Regions from separate parts of the Homo sapiens genome. Here region 2 is reported to be linked to region 1. The links are microRNA targets in miRTarBase. Many come from high-throughput screens and were not tested one by one. Region 1 holds a microRNA gene; the other region holds the end of a gene's coding sequence.
The links. Region 1 holds the annotated microRNA hsa-miR-4753-5p (CAAGGCCAAAGGAAGAGAACAG, at 1,686-1,707, opposite strand). A microRNA usually pairs through its seed, bases 2 to 8, with sites in the 3' UTR of a target mRNA and lowers its output. Matches are read on the target gene's strand: a 7mer-m8 pairs with bases 2 to 8, a 7mer-A1 pairs with bases 2 to 7 and ends in A, and an 8mer does both.

Region 1 (3,148 bases):
AGGGCAGTGGGGAGCCTCATACAAGGAGCACTGGGTGAAGACTAAAAATTACTTAGATGCCTAGATCCCCACCTCACTTCAGGTTGGAAGGTGACTGCCCTTCTAGAGCTTTATTCTCTGAAGACAGTAGGAGAGGGCTCCTAGCCTGGGAGATGCTAACAACTGTTGAAGGCACAGGTACAGATGCGATGCTGAAATTAGGGGGATTCATGAACATATCTAACCACTAAGAATCCTCCACCCCACTCTCTGTTCTTCAACTAGATCCTAGAACACTGGAAACCATTCTCTTACCACCCTCCAGTCAAGAGATTGGAACTCTTTTCTCTGGAAGCCAACTAGTCTAAGAGAAAAAGACCTAAAGACTTCATATTATGAATTCCCTAGGACATGGCCAACCAGATCACCCGATAGTGAAACTCAAGGTCAACAAGTGCCAACCATATGCTTGCAATTTCCAAATCAGTTTAGTCTTTCCTTCATAATCATAAGACAGCCAGGAAAAAAAATTCTTAATAGGGAAGAGCTCAAAACAACAACACAGAAAAAAGCAAATTAGAGGTAACTGAAAAAACCAAAAATTATAAAATCCTTTGAAAGATCAAAATCCGAAAGGTAAGGTATTGCATCCATCTATAAGAACAGAGTGGTACAAAACACACAGAAAACAGAGCTCTTGAAAAATTAAACTAGTTTAATTTAAAAATATTCATTGAAAGGCTGGGCGCAGTGGCTCACGCCTATAATCCCAGCACTGTGGGAGGCTGAGGCAGGTGGATCACAAGGTCAGGAGTTCAAGACCAGCCTGGCCAAGATGGTGAAACCCCATCTCTACTAAAAATACAAAAAATTAGCTGGGTGCGGTGGCAGGCGCCTGTAATACCAGCTACTCGGGAGGCTGAGGCAGGAGAATCGCTTGAACTTGGAGGGCAGAGATTGCAGTGAGCCGAGATCATGCCACTGCACTCCAGCCTAGGCAACAGAGTGAGACTCAGTCTCAAAAAAAAAAAAAAAAAAAAAAAAATCATTGAAAACTTAAACATTACAGCAAAAAGTCAACAAAAGGATTAAAAGACAAAGCAGATAAAATTTCAAAGAAATAAAAAGACAAAAAAATTAATAAAAAGCAAGAAATTAAAAGGTGAGCATATTAGAGTATATTACAGAAGGTATAATATCAAATAATGGCTGGCCAAAGAAAGATAACAGCCAAGTGCAGTGTCATGCACCTATACCCCAGCTACCCAACTACTTGGGAGGCTGAGGCAGGAGGACTGCTTGAGCCCAGAAGTGTGAGAACAGCCTGGGCTGAACATAGTGAAACACAGTCTCAATTAAAGAAAAAAAAAAATTTGGCAGGGCTGGGACAGTAGCTCATGCCTGTAATCCTAGCACTTTGGGAGGCTGAGACAGGAAAATCGCTTGAGCTCAGAAGTTTGAGACCAGCCTGGGCAATATAGTAACACCTCATCTCAAAAATAGTAACAATGAACAAAAATTAAAAAGGAGAGAACAGTAAAATGCAGGAGAGGAAATCATCAAGAAAATCATTCAAAAAAACTGCCTAGAACAGAAAGACAGAAGTTGCTAGAATGAAAGAGTCTAGCAAGTAGGCATCACAGGGGATGAAAATATATCTACACAAGGCTAAAGAAAGAGAACAGCCAAGTGTACTGTGGATATATCTGTTCTCTTCCTTTGGCCTTGTGTAGATATATTTCAGAGTTAAATTTCTGGATACGAAAAACAAAGATTCAAGATTCCTAGCAGGGCATGGTGGCTCATGCCAGTAATCCCAGCACTTTGGGAGGCTGAGGTGAGTGGATCACTTGAGGTCAGCAGTTCGAGACCAGCCTGGCCAAAATGGCAAAACCCCATCTCTACTAAAAATAGAAAAACTAGCCAGGCGTGGTGGCAGGCCCCTGCAATCCCACCTACTCGGGAGGCTGAGGCAGGAGAAACACTTGAACCCAGGAGGCAGAGGCTGCAGTAAGCCAAAATTGTGCCACTGCACTCCAGCTTGGCCAACAGAGTGAGATTCCATCTCAAAAAAAGAAAAGAAAAAAAAAAGATTCCAGAGACAGAAAAGCAAAAAATAAAGAATAAAACAAGTCACATACAAAGAATCAGGAATTGGAAGAGCTCTGGACTTCACAAAAGCAATACTGGAAGCAAAAAAACAATTCAACACTGCCAATAAAATACTGAAGGAAAAACTTCCAATCCAGCCAAACTATGAATAGAATAAAGATATTTGCAAAAATAAATACAGATATTTAAATGCAGCCAATCTCTAAAAATTCCATCTCATGCACTTGTTCTTTAGAAGCTACTAGAGAATGTGCTCCACCAAAATGAAAGTATGGGGGTGGGGAGGAACCTGAGATGCCAAAAACAAAGAAATCCAAGAACTACATTAAAGGAGATCCCTAGAATGGGATCTCCCTAGGAAAATAGCTGTGCAACAGATATAGAGGGAAACCAGTCCAGACTACAGCAGTGTTATTTCCAAAGAAAGTCATACTGCAGGCTATTATCATTAAGCTACCTGCTACCGCCTCTCTGTAGTCTTTGAATGCCTGAGTGACCCAGACTGGATTTTAAAATCTGTATTTATCTTGTTTCAACTATGTGTCAATGAAATTCCAGCTCTCCCTTCCATGTCTTATGTGCCACTACCTAGATCAGCTAATGACATCATTTTATCCAGCAGAAACATTCTGACCTACTTGTGAAAAATAGGGGTAAATCACCATAAGCCTAGAATGAGAATATATATAGAGTAGTCTGCTACTACGACTGAGCACACTCCCACATAACATCCACTGCGAATGTGTCACATATTCTTTTTATTTTATTTTTTTTAAGATGGAGTTTCGCTGTTGCTACCCAGGCTAGAGTGCAATGGTGTGATCTTGACTCACTGCAACCTCTGCCTCCTGGGTTCAAGCGATTCTCCTGCCTCAGCCTCCCAAGTAGCTGGGATTACAGGCACCCACCACCACACCCGGCAAAGTTTTTGTATTTTTTTTTTTAGTAGAGACAGGGTTTCACCATGTTGGCCAGGCTGGTCTCAAACTCCTGACCTCAGGTAATCTGCCCGCCTTGGCCTCCAAAAGTGCTGGGATTACAGGAGTGAGCTACTATG
Region 2 (3,000 bases), not on the chromosome of region 1:
CCAGTGGCTCAAGGATGCTCAGGGGCTGCCTGGAGGGGGTGGGGGGGACAACAGTGGGACTGCTGAGAATGGCCGCCACTCGGACCTCGCTGCCTTGTACACCATTGTGGCTGTGTTCCCCAGCCCCCTGGCTGCCCAAAATGCCTCCCTTCGTCTCAACAACTCCGTGAGTCGCTTCAAACTTCGAATGGCCAAAAAGAACTATGACCTGAGGATCCTGGAGCGAGCCAGCTCCCAATAAATGGAGGAGGGGAAAGGGACTGTCACAGAAGGAGCAAGGGCAGGGTGGAGGGGGTTGAAGGATCCTGACAGACCATGGACAGAGGCAGGAAGTAAGGAAACTGATGTTAAACTGGAACCTAAGACAGTGATGAAGATGGAAACACAGATACCTACACTGGCATTGGACTCCTTCTTGCTCCCCTGCCATGGGTCCTCTCTTTTTCCCTGGTTGACCCCCCTTGCATCACTCTTCTTCCCATCCTCTTCTTTTTTTTTTTTTTTTTTTTTTTGAGACGGAGTTTCGCTCTTGTCACCCCAGCTGGAGTGCAGTAGCACGATCTTGGCTAACTGCAACCTCCAGCTCCTGGGTTCAGGTGATTCTCCTGCCTCAGCCTCCCAAGTAGCTGGCACTACAGACACGCGCCACCATGCCCGGCTAATTTTTGTATTTTTAGTAGAGACGGAGTTTCACCATGTTGGCCAGGCTGGCCTCAAACTCCTGACCTCAGGTGATCCACCTGCCTTGGCCTTCCAGAGTGCTGGGATTACAGGCGTGAGCCACTGTGCCTGGCTTCCATCCTCTTCTATCATTTTTTTAAATCTCTTCTCCTATCATAAAATTAATTTCTCATTTTTTGGTCAGGTAGAATTGGGAAAGTCCCACACTGTCCTCCTATTACCTTAACATCCCAAGCTTCCTTTCCTTTTTTGGTCTTTATGAATATATTTATATGGACAGAATTAAGATAAACAAAATTGATTGCCCCATTCTCTCACTTCCCCATCTTGTCTTCCTAGACCCCACAGAGTTAAAACTTGGGATTCCCCTGGCCCCCCCAGAACACTTGTATATTGTTTGTTTGAGGTTCGTGCCGCAGTAACAGACACAGTATTTAATTGCACATACAGATGTTTGCTGGGTATATTCACTGTAAATTTTATTTAATCTGTTTTTTTGTTTGTTTGGGGGTTATTTGGGGGGAGGTTGGTTTTGTTTTTAAATATAAAAAAAAAAATCTGTCACTGGACATCAGTCACTGTTTCTCTGTTGCCGCCCTGGTATGGGTAAAGGGTTGGAGGCCCTGGGTAGGTATAGCCCTACAGCTGTTGGAGGTGTTTGTCGTGGGTTGGGATGGCTTTCTCTAGCATACGCACACTATTTTAACACCATTCCCTCTGTCTCATCCTCTTCCCTGTACACGGTTCTGATAGATGGCTAGATCTCTAATGGGACCATGGCTTTGGGCTCTCCCGGTTCTGCCACTGTGGTTCATCGAGCATATCACTTCTCAACTCTGGATCTGTGTCCAGATCAGTAAAATAAGAGACTTGGACTTAGTAGGTGACCTCTAGGTTTCCTTCCAGACTATTAATTCTGTGGTACTGTGTACTCATTTAGGGCCCTTGTAGTTGAGTTTTGAGATAGGGTCTTGCTCTGTCACCCAGGCTGGAGTGCAGTGGCAGATCTCAGCTGACTGCAGCCGCCTCCCGTGTTCAAGCGATTCTTGTGCCTCAGTCTCCCGAGTAGCTGGGATTACAGGCGCGATCTAGCATGCCTGGCTAATCTTTTTTTTTTTTTTTTTTGCTATTTTTGGCAGAGACAGGGTTTTACCATGTTGCCCAGGCTGGTCTTGAACTCCTGGGCTCAAGTGATCTCCCGCCTTGGCCTCCTAAAGTGCTGGGATTACAGGCATGAGCCACCACTCCCAGCCCAGCTCGTCTTCTGAAAACCCTTTAGGGATGGAGAACTTGGGCCTTTCTTTTTTTTTTTTTTTTGAGATGGAGTCTCGCCCTGTTGCCCAGGCTGGAGTGCAGTGGCGCGATATCTCGGCTCACTGCAACCTCCACCTCCCGAGTTCAAGCAGTTCTCCTGCCTCAGCCTCCTGAGTAGCTGTGCCCCATCGTGCCCAGCTAATTTTTGTATTTTTAGTTGACATGGGGTTTCACCATGTTGGCCAGGCTGGTCTCGAACTCCTGACCTTGTGATCCACCCGCCTCGGCCTTCCAAAGTGCTGTGATTACAGGCGTGAGCCACCGTGCCTGGCTGCCTTTCTTTAATCCTAAAGCTGGAGGATTGGGTTTTACCTGTCAGGGACAGAAGCAGATTTTTATTACAATGAAAGCTACAGCAACTGAACTCGCAGTGCCAAGATGCTGTATTATCCAAACATGCTCAGCAGTCCCTGTCCTATGTGGCTGAAAAAAGACGAAGAGCAGAAGTCATCTTGCCTGCAAGATGGAGCTTTTCCTTTAGAGCATCTCAAAGCAAGCCCTGTTGTTCTGCAGCCTGTCAGAGCAGGGCCATTAAAGAACCTGCAGAGTCAGAACCATCCTGCACCCCCTTTTCAAACTCCCCCCTTAAATAGAAAAAAGTAGTGGGTGAGAATGACAAAGCACGTTGCCCTGGAAATCTCTTGGGTCCAAGTAGCTGTATCCCTAACGACGATCCTACAGGAGCTTGCCTGACCCAGTCTCCAACACAGTCCTTTATTTCTTACAGATACAAGGAATAGAGCAGCACTGCATTGCCACCTCTAAATTGCTCTCCCCTGAGATGGGAGTATCTCCTCTTTCATCCATGTCACAGCCCAAAGAGTAGAAGGGTGCACCCCTGTGAGATGAGAATGGCATCTGTCTCTTTGATCCATCAGTTATATACTGAGGCATCAAAGGTGGGAGATGGAATCAGGGAATCAAAAGGGTTTAGGAAGTGTGAGGGTTGGCCATCCTACCTTTAAGAGTTTGCAGTTCTCATGAGGAAGGGGACATTACTTAGAA

Region 2: the mRNA of R3HDM2 is a reported target of hsa-miR-4753-5p. Seed matches in the 3' UTR shown: 7mer-m8 at 747-753.

The regions. Positions count from the first base shown.
Region 1 is chr1:235,188,401-235,191,548 of GRCh38, forward strand. MIR4753 (microRNA 4753) reads right to left here and starts at 1,716; the gene lies at 1,634-1,716. All of the region lies in intron 19 of ARID4B (AT-rich interaction domain 4B), which reads right to left.
Region 2 is chr12:57,252,014-57,255,013 of GRCh38, reverse strand. It overlaps R3HDM2 (R3H domain containing 2), which reads left to right. Exons shown (of 24, transcript NM_001394031.1): 24 at 1-1,250. The coding sequence ends at 241. Among named protein-coding and RNA genes, the nearest start is that of STAC3, 2.3 kb to the right of the region's middle.